2 separate regions of the Homo sapiens genome follow, and region 1 is linked to region 2. The links come from fine-mapping of genetic effects on gene expression. A gene starts in region 2. The other region holds a variant in brackets. All regions are shown on one strand. Distances are from middle to middle. Region 1 overlaps RABGAP1L (RAB GTPase activating protein 1 like). Region 2 holds the start of CACYBP (calcyclin binding protein).

What was found. PIP is the estimated chance that this variant, and not a neighbour inherited with it, causes the effect. A credible set is the group of variants that fine-mapping cannot tell apart.
Region 1: its variant is the best candidate, but not a certain one, in a credible set for the expression of CACYBP in whole blood (INTERVAL, PIP 0.50).

What each region holds. Positions count from the first base shown.
Region 1 is chr1:174,819,144-174,824,525 of GRCh38, reverse strand. All of the region lies in intron 19 of RABGAP1L (RAB GTPase activating protein 1 like), which reads right to left. Among named protein-coding and RNA genes, the nearest start is that of RABGAP1L-AS1, 130 kb to the left of the region's middle. The variant G/A (reference allele first, on the strand shown) is at 2,261.
Region 2 is chr1:174,996,791-175,002,172 of GRCh38, reverse strand. It overlaps CACYBP (calcyclin binding protein), which reads right to left and starts at 2,226. Exons shown (of 6, transcript NM_014412.3): 1 at 1,978-2,226. The coding sequence starts at 1,992. LOC105371622 (a long non-coding RNA gene) reads left to right here and starts at 2,527. Exons shown (of 2, transcript NR_188647.1): 1 at 2,527-2,578; 2 at 4,440-4,694. RefSeq lists a silencer at 2,206-2,325 and enhancers at 2,356-2,865, 2,417-2,953, 2,896-3,105.

The DNA.
Region 1 (5,382 bases), 180 kb after region 2:
GTTTCATTTAAGTTTATTTCTTATTTATTTAGAGACAGAGTCTTGCTCTGTCGCCCAGGCCAGAGTGCAGTGGCACGATCTCAGCTCACTGAAACCTCCCCCTCCTGGGTTCAAGTGACTCTCCTGCCTCAGCCTCCCAAGTAGCTGGGACTATAGGCGTGTGTCACCATGCCCAGCTAATTTTTGTACTAATATATATATAGATATGTATATATCTATATCTATATATTTTTTTTGAGATGGAGTTTTACTCTTTCGCCCAGGCTGGAGGGAAGTGGAGCGAACTCAGCTCACTGCAACCTCTGCCTTCCTGGTTCAAGAGACTCTCTTGCCCCAGCCTCCCTAGTAGCTGGGATTACAGGCACGTGTCACCACACCTGGCTAAGTTTTGTATTTTTAGTAGAGACGGGGTTTCACCCTGTTGGCCAAGCTGGTCTCGAACTCCTGACCTTAGGTGATCCACCCACCTTGGCTTCCCGAAGTGCTATGATTACAGGTGTGAGCCACTGCGCCTGGCCTAAATTTTGTATTTTTAGTAGAGACAGGATTTCACCATGTTGGTAAAGCTGGTTTCAAATTCCTGACCTCAAGTGATCGGCAAAGTATCCCAAAGTATTGGGAGGCAAAGGCAAGTATTACAGGCATGAGCCACTTACCCAGCCAATTTCTAATTTATTTTTACTGATACATAATAATTGTACATATTTATGGAGAACATGCGATATTTTGCTCCCTGAATGCTATGTGTAATGATTACATCAGAGTACTAGGATATCGATCACCTCAAACATGTGTCAATTCTTTTTGTTGGGAACCTTTTGAATCTTCTATTTTGAAGTACACAATAAATTATTAACTATAGTCACCCTGATGTGCTACTGAATACTATAACTTATTCCTTCTATCAAAGTGTATGCTTGTGTGCTCATTAACCAACCTCTCTTCATTTATTTTTATTGTTGCCTAACATAATGAAATTATTTCCAGTGAGAAGCAACAAGGGTTCAGAGGAATGTTTTCTTTTCTTCTGTAAATCGGATCCCCAAATACAAATCATGAAGCACACTTTAAACATAATGTTAATATGAATTCAAGTGATAATAAATAAATAAAATAATTCAAAGAAATGTAGAATCACGGTAAATGGTTGCGGGAAAATTATTGATTACTGCTGTTCCCAATAGTGAAGACAAGTTCTAACGTTATGGCAACTCTGATAGATATAAATCACAACTACTGGATAAAAGGTAATTGGCAAAACACTTCAGAAAGGTAAACAAAATATGGAAACTCTTATTTAAGAGCATAATCATTAGGTTTTGATCCATTATAAGACTGCTGGGCGTGAATTAGGTGCAGGGAAAAAAAGAAAACTTAAAGTTTTTGAAGAAAAATAAACTACTAGGTGAGATAGCAATTCTGATGTTCTTTTTGTTGTTAATTATGCATGGAATGCACATAGTTCCAATTTTGGAACGTCTATAAAGGCATAATGCTCTATTCCTATGGTTTACTATTTGTTTTTCTAAGAAAAGAGTTGCCCAAATATAAATCAATTTTTATATCCATTAGTTTACCCATCAGGTTAATTTTAAAATGTATGTATGGCTTTCTTTTTAATGAACTGCCAGAAAATGACTGGCAGAAGTAGGTACAGGGTAGAAACAAAATGGCAGAAGCAAATAAAGAAGACAAATGTGTTCTAGCTCAGGGGTCCCTACCACCAGGCAGCGGACCAGTACCGGTCATTAGGAACCGGGCCACACAGAAAGAGGTGCCTCGTGGGAGAGCAAGCATTATGGCCTGAGCTCTGCCTCCTGTCTGATCAGCAGTAGCATTAGATTTTCATAGGAGCGTGAACCCTATTGTGAACTGCACATGCAAGGGATCTAGACTGCTCTGTCTATGAGAATCTAATGCCCTCCCCCTCCACCATGGAAAAATTGTCTTCCATGAAAATGATCCCTGGTAGGAGACCACTGTTCTAGCTGATTAGGAAGGGCCACAAAAGCTGAGTTTTTTAAATGTGGAAGGTGCCTGATGCCTAAGCATCTGGAGCTCTGACCTGTTTCCTCTGCCTGTTATCAACTGTTTCAGAACATGTCCAACATTAACATGTTCCCTGCTCACTGGGAATAAAACAAAACAATACCCCAATCTAAGGTGCACTGAAGACTATGAGTGTTAATAGAAGTCTCAAAGGCAAACAGTGGCAAATGCTTTGATATAGAAACTACTTCATTATCAATTTTTTTTGTTT[G/A]TTTGAGACACAGTCTTGTTCCATTGCCCAGGCTTGCAGTGCAGCGGTGCAATCTCCGCTCACCACAACTTCCGCCTCCCAGGTTCAAGTGATTCTCCTGCCTCAGCCTCTCGAGTAGCTGGGACTACAGGCGTGCGCCACCATGCCCGGCTAATTTTTGTATTTTTAGTAGAGACAGGGTTTCACTGTGTTGGCCAGGTTGGTCTCCAACTCCTGACCTCGTGATCCACCCGCCTCGGCCTCCCAAAGGGCTGGGATTACAGGCGTGAGCCACCGCACCCAGCTTTATTATCAATGTGTTAATTATCACATCTGTATCCTATAACATGATAACATTTCTCCAGCAGAAGATTATGACACTAAACCTAACAACTCAAATGTGGTTGTCAACATATAGAGGTCTTTATAGAAAAGGAACACAAGATGTGTTTTAATCAAAAGTGAATCTTTTCAATGGTGTACATAAAAGCACACATTTTAGATCCATGAAGTTGACAAAAACTTCTGTAGGACCTCAGTGCTAATTCAAAGAAAGCCTCTATTTCAGAGAGTACATTCTTGTTCACGTACAGCAACAACAGCCAGGAATAAATAGCAAACAGCATGAAGAAATTAGAGGTAAATTGCTTTTAATGCAATTGTTCTTTACAGTTTTGCTCTACTGTGAAAGTTATTTTCAAAAACATTCAAATCCAGTTATGAATATGGAGGTCTTCGGAGAAAAAAAATTAAATTCTAGATAAAGGAATCTACCACTGTCTCATTAAAAACATGATTTGTGAGGGGTAAGATCAAATTGTATTTGCAACTTTGGGAGAGTAGAAAATAGTCCAGCACAATATATAGGTAATTGAGCTGGAGCAGAGCTTAGAATTTTCTGAGGCAAGTAGGTGATAAGTAACATCTTATCATTGGTAGCTACCTCTTTAGCACGGGGTAGGAAGACAATTTTGGTGTGTGAGAAGATGCTGGGTCAGGATTCTGTTTTTAACCATGAGTGCCCTTCCTCATTCCCTCATTCCCGCTACCTGCACTGCCTCTGCCATCTTTGTCTATTCCTCCCACAATGCATTTCCAACTCTTAATCATGTGATCAGAGTAAAATGGTAGTGATGGTGGCAGAATTATTAGGACAAAGAGAAGTAAATCATAGGAGGTGGCCATGAATGCCAAAATAGTAATTGGCATGGTTTTGCTGCGATCACTGGAAATTATGAGCACAGGGCAGTTTTTTTTTTTTTTTCTTTTTGAGATGGAGTCTCACTCTGTCGCCCAGGCTGGAGTGCAGTGGTGCAATGTCAGTTCACTGCAACCTCCACCTCCCGGACTCCAGCAATTCCCACGCCTCAGCCTCCTGAGTAGCTAGGATTATAGGCACGTGCCACCATGCCTAGGGAAATTTTTGTATTTTAGTAGATACGGGTTTTCACCATGTTGGCCAGGCTCATCTTGAAGCCCTGAGCTCAGGCGATCTGCCCGCCTCAGCCTCCCAAGGTGCTAAGATTACAGGGGCGAGCCCAGGGCAATATTACTTTCTAGTATCAGAAAGTTCTCTTTAAAATATATGAATTTTTGAGAAAAAGATGCTTTTTATCTTGGGTAACCCCCAATAAGGGAATTAATCTCCTCTTCCGCCATTCTTCCTGAGTCCAATAATTCTTTGTTCCCTTCTCCCAGGCCCTTTTCTTGTAGTCTTTCAGTCCCATCTATCTTCACTCTCTTTTCTATTAATTAGACTCCATTTCCCATCATGTCAACCACTCTCCTGCTATTAGCCTCATCTCCTCAACCCTGTGGTGTACCAGTGTCAGAAACTACCAGCTCAAAAGTGGCTCTTAATATTCAGAAATTGAGTGGGGCGGTTAAGTCATTGGTAGCTTGAAATTTGGCCATGGTGGGAGTATTCATACCATGGAAATGGGCAAACGCTACAAATCAGGGATACCTCTTTCTCTACTCCCTCTTACTCCCCAACCCAATATACAGTTTATTAGCACAACTGCCCTGGCCCCATGTCCTTCCTTTGCCTCATATTGGCAAACCTCAACTGTGGTTAAAATAACCTTCTGTCTTCTTCATATATACATTTGGACTACTAAATGTTTCTAAAGAAAATTACAAAACACTGTAGATTTTTGCCACTATGAACTCATAGTCTACAACAATATAGACTAGCTGTTCTTTTGAGTTTTTCCAGTCTAAAAGCTCTTCCATGTTTCTCAAAGCTGTCACTTTACTGCATTCCCTTCATCCTAGATCCTGTTTAACAGAAACAATAGAAAACTTCAAATGAAATATCCTCAATTTCTTCCTCACCAAACTACACATTCACCATTTTCCCCATCCTTCCCTTGCCTATTCCCTCCAGCTTGTAATGAAAGGTCCATTCTTTTGAGGTTAATCCCTTACCTCCTCAGAGTCCTTTTCCTGTTAATATATTTCCCTTTCTTTATTTAATCTTTAACTTTTCTCTTTCTGTGGGCTTTTCCTTCTTATTGGTAGATGAAGTGGTTTGGTCCCTGGATATCAACTGTCATCATTCTCTGAAGTACAGTCAAACTGGCCTTCTCCTAGTTTCTACAACTTACTATATTCTCTCCCTCTTCACAGGCTTTGCATATGCTGCTTTTCAGTCTGGAATACCTTGTAATCTCAGTTCAAGAATGCTTTCTCTAGATCATTGAGTCAAGGTCAGGTTCCTTTGCTCTTTGCTCTCATATATCTTTATTATATCTCTTCTGAACATTTATCTCACTCTGTAAGTATACATTTATTAAGGTGATTAAATTAACACTGTGAATTCCATGAGCTCTGAGAGCATATGTGCTTTTGCTCAATCTCATATTCCCTGGGTCTATCTGGTACAATGCCTGGCATATAGTAGGTGCTCAAAGAAGAAATTAAGAGTCATTGGAAATTTTTTTAGCATTAAAGACTCATCTTTCCCATCCTCCAAAAATCCATCTTAGTCTCAACATCCTCTTATCTCTCTCTCTTGTACTTACTCATCTCTCTCTCTCCCATACTTACTCTCAGGCTTGCTGACTATCTCTTTTTTTTTTTTTTTTTTTTTTTTTTAGAGACAGGCAGAGTCTTGCTCTGTCACCTGGGCTGGAATGCAA
Region 2 (5,382 bases):
TTACCATATGAACCAGTAATTCCACTCCTAGGTATATACCCCAGAGAACTGAAAACACATCCACACAAAAAACTTGGATACAGTACTCGCAGCAGCATTATTTATGCTAGTCACGAAGTGGAAATAAGGCCAGGCGCCATGGCTCACACCTGTAATCCCAGCACTTTCAGAGGCCGAGGCGGGCGGGCGGATCACTTGAGATCAGGAGTTCGAGACCAGCCTGGCCAACGTGGTGAAACCCCGTCGCTACTAAAAATACAAAAATTAGCCGGGCATGGTGGCGCGCGCCTGTAATCCCAGCTTCTCAGGAGGCTAAGGCAGGAGAATCCTTTGAACCCGGGAGACGGAGATTGCAGTGAGCCGAGATTGCGCCATTGCACTCCAGCCTGGGCGACAGAGCGAGACTCCGTCTCAAACAAAGAAGTGGAAATAAATGTCCATAAACGGATGAAAGGATAAACACAATGTGCCACATGCATATAATAGAATATTATTTAGCCATAAAGAGCATGTGTACTGATACACGCTACACCATGGATGAACTTGAAAATGTTAGTGCTAAGTTGAAGGAGCCAAAAAACAAAAGGCCACATACAGCGTGACTCCATTTATATGAAATGCCTACAATAGGCAAATTCACAGAAAGTACAAGATGAGTAGTTGTCAGGGGCTGAGGGAGGAATGGGAAGCAATTGTTTAAAACACACTACATGGTTTCTTTCTGGAGTGATGAAAATGTCCTGAAACTAGACAGTGGTGATGGCTGCACTACACTGTGAATATATTTAAACAAAAAACAAATACCTGAATTGTACACTTTAAAATGGTTAAAAACTTGAATTTTATCTCAAACAAAACAAAAATCAAGTGCCCTCAAATGTATATTTCTAAGTGCCTAAACTGAGAACGATCTCTACTTTCAAGAGGACTAACACTGAGCTATCCACCTGCAAGACTGTGAAGTTATCTCCTAGGGGCACATAGTACCCAAGACCTACCTTAAAAGACTTGTCACAAGATACCCAGATTAATACTGGAACACACAAACCTCATAGTTTTTCTTCATTTAAAGAAAAGATTTTGAGTTTAAAAAACAAAAACAAAACAAAACAAAAGCTTGGGACTCCCCAGTACTTGTTTTCATAAAGCAAATCTAGTTAATACACACCCAACACTTAACTGTGAATAACTGTCCCGTCTTCACCTCCCACTTACGCCAGGAAATGAGCAATACAAGTACTATCATTCCCATTTTCTAACTGAGCAAACTAAGTCTCCACAAAATTTAATTCTCCAACGTTCAGAGTTTACAGAGCTTTAACACAGGCCATTCGCTTTCTTACTATTAATTACAACTAACTTTCCAAGTTATTTATTTTAAAAATCACATACAGCAGATTGCTGTTTGCCAATCACTGACTTAAACACCTAGAAATCATATTTTTTAACAACCCTATGAAATGGATGCTACTGCGACACAGAGAAGCTAAACAACTTGCCCAGAGTAACACAGCTCCTCGTGTGTAGAGAAAACCTGACTAGGAGAATTCAAGTGCTAGCACTGAGAACTCACCTTCCAACCGCCCTCTACCAAGAACGACACTCATGTTTGCACCCAGCTTTGCTTGAATGAAGCTTCCTGTCCACTGGCTGGGAAACCAGGGCAGAAAGGGCCTGAGGAACACGCGCAAAGGGCCGCTCTCCCAGACCCACTCCCCGCACCGCCTGCACGGATAATCGCCGCACACCCCCGCTCGAGCCCAGCAGGCGAGTGGGGTGCGAGGTCGAGTGGAAGCGCTGGGGAGCCGACGGCGCAGCAAGGGGCGAGTGAGGTGTCCCCCGGGAAGGCGGCGCACTGACTGGCGCGGGACCGGGTGGCCGCAGGGCGGCTCAGCCCACGGAAACGGCGGTAGGGCGGGAGGCTGGCGCTGCAGCTCCAGCCGGGGGGCATAAGGAATATGGGGCCGGACCACTTACCTCTTCTGAAGCCATGGGGGCTGGGTCAGGCCGAAGTCCCGAGCTGCAGCCGCGCAGAAGGAGGAACAGGAAACCCCGCGCCGAGCCCTCAAACCGAGCGCAGACGCCTACCCGCACGAGTCGCGGCGCTGCAGCCTGCGCCCACACCGACCCTGCGCAAGATCGCGGCCCGCCTCCCGCACGCGACGGATCTCGAACCTTCGCGAGGCAGCCGCCGCCACCGCCCACCGCGAGCACGCACAGCCCGCCAAGCCTGGCTCCACCCACCCTTCCTCGCCTCGCCGAGCCTAGCCCCACCCCTCCCCGCCCCGCCGAGTCTGGCTCCGCCCGCCTGCCGAATCTCCTAGCAACGCTCAAGTCTCGCGAGCGAACCGGCAATCCGAGAAGAGTAATGTCTTGCTCTCCGCCCTGACAACTTTTATGTATTATAATTTGACCGCGCTGGGCCACGCTGCGCAGTCGCAGCTCGGAACCGCTGCGTTAACCCAGCCCCGGAAATAACGTACCGATCTTCGGAGTCCAAGTCGGAAGTTGACTAGAGAGTCACCTGCTTTCGTCCGCTCTAGGACACCAGACACACCAGGCCGCCATGTTGTGTAAGGTTAGTCTCTCAGCCTCCGCGAGAAGAAGGCGAAAAATGGGGAGGAGCAGCCTGGTTACTTTCAAACGAGAAAGAACGGATATGTTAAGCGTGGAGGGCTCCTAATGGTAGCGGTTTGATTTTCAGTGAGTTTGGCGCGGTGGAGACGTCACCGCGGTCTAACAGTTCCGACGTGGTGGCGTCATCACTGGCCGCCGTAGGAGGTGGAGCTACGTTGGCCTCGTGACCGGGCCCTGTAGCGGAAGCCCAGGTCAAGGCCCTAACAAAAGGGCCCGCCTATGGCCACAGTTTCAGGCCCTCCTTTCAGTCATGGACTGTTGAAGCACGATTTCCTGGTGCTTTCGCCCCTTTCACCGACCATTTCAAGAGTCCGTAGTTCTCGCCTGGGTTTGGATTCGGTATAAGTGAGCCTGTTTACCATCAAAGAAAATGGTGAAATGTCTTCTGGAGACGATGTTCTCTTCTGGTTCTAACCCTGTCACTCAGTGAGACCCCCAGAGAAGCCTAGTTTTCAGATTATTCTAGTCCTTGGCAGGCTCAAGATGTCAACAACACGGTTGGAAACAACCCCTGAGAGGTCACATAGCGCGCACTCAGCTTTACAGATCGTCCAAGGCAGCGACCCCTGAGAGGTCACATAGCGCGCACTCAGCTTTATAGATCGTCCAAGGCAGCAATTAGAATCAGCAACTCGGAGAGGAAAAAAAGCTGTTAGCGGAATGGAGGCTGACCATTATCTGTAGTAAAGAATCGGAAGTACAGTACAAAAATAAATTACCGAAACGCAACATGCGTGAATTTCACACAAAAAAATGAAGTTGAGGGAAAGAAGCCAGACATGGAAGAGTTCATATTGCGTGGTTCCATTTAAAAACTAGCCCATGGTGTTAATGAGCATAGTGGGGAGGACAATGACATGAAAGAGCCACCAGGGGGCTTTTGAGGTTCAGGTAATGTTTCTTGATTTGGACACTGATTATAGATAGGTGGGTTCACTTTAGAAATCTCATTGAGTTGTAAACGTATATTTATGTACGTAGTTTTTTCTGTAGATTATGCTTAAGGCCCGGCGAAGGGGAATTTGCCCAGGTAATGGAAATATTACACCGATACATAGAATTGTCAAAGTTCATGGGATGAACTCCTAAGAGCTGTGTATTTTATCGTATAAATTTTTTTAAGTGTCCAACCAATAGCCTGGAATTATTAAGTACATAATTAAATAAAAACAAATATCCCATGGACCTAATGCAGTGAACAGTTACCTCGTTCTCTTAATTGCTCAGGCTAAGGACTCATACCTGAGTCTTCTATCTCAGGCCTTACATCTTATATAACAAGCCTTACTGGCTTAATCTTCAAAATATGTAGCGAATTTAACGAGTTCTCACAACCTCTGCTTCTACCACCTGACGGGGTTTGGGACATGCTACCCAAAAATATGGCACCTAGACATATTGAATACTTTGAACTGAAGGAATTTGAGAAAGAACATATGCAGGAATGTCTCTAACTTTCTTGCACCTTTCTGCTCTGAAGCAGGACGTAATACCCTCATGTGAGAATTGCCCTGTCTATACCTGGAATAAAAGTAACATCTTTATCTCTGAAAACACAGGGACGTAGAGACGAATATGAACATCAGGCCTTGCTAAGTTTCCCCCAGTTTATTACCCTTAGATCACAGTCTTTTAGCCCCATCACATTTTCCCACAATTCTCCATTCTTCTTCAAACCTACTCTAAACAACACTAAGGTTAACTATTTATTCGGGTCTTCATTTCTTTATGAAGTTTCCATGTTATGTAAAACTAACATTAATATTTATGCTTTTCTCTTGTTAATTTGTCTTTTGTTACAGGATCCCCAGCCAGTGAGCCTAAAATGGGTAGAAGGAAAAGATATTTCTTACCCTACGCACCCAGGTCCAAGTCATCATTATTTTGTCTGAAATTTATCTTCCTAACTGATTTCTCTGCTTCCCCATTGTGCCTTAAGAGTTAGTTTTCCACAGAGCAGCTCGAGATATCTTTTCAGATCATTATATCCCTTTGCTTAAAAACCTCTAACAGCTTCCTATTAGGCTTAGAATAAAGTACAAACTCCTTAATGTGAACTTGAGTGTTTTACGTATCTTATCTCACCTTTATGAGCTTCATGTCAGAACCCATCTCTCACCACTCTTCCTTCCCCGCTCCCTGATTTAAACAGTCTGGCACTTTACTTATTCATTGAACCCACTGGGTTTGCTCTTGCCTCCAAGTCTGTACCCAGCTTTCTCTCTACCTGTAATCCTCTTCCTCTAGGTCATCACACAGATCGTTTCTTCACTCTATTTAGGTCTTTCAGAAGTAACACTAAGGGAGGCTTTTCCAGACAATATTATGCAAATATAAATGGACATGTGACAAATACTTTATTCGACTTATTAGTTACTGAGAGTGTATTTGAGTAGCCAGGTATTTATAGGCAATTTAACAATGTAATGTTAGTATAAGGTGGCAAGGTTAGATATAAACCTGTTAATGTCTCACAGGGTAATAAACTATAACTTTTGGTGTTATCTGTTCCACTGGAAAGGAAGTAGGGATTTGCATTCTTACTGGACAAAAATCTACAAGTTAATGTATAGATTCAGTATAGGACTTTTAAATCAATAGTGAACGATGAAATGAACAAAGTACAATCCCCTAGTCCTTGGTTTGACACTGAAAGGACATGCCACTCACCTTTTTGCCTTGTTTCCAAAGTTTGGAATAATTTTCCTTTCAAAATGAAATTATTTCTCATTCAGTTGTCCTATT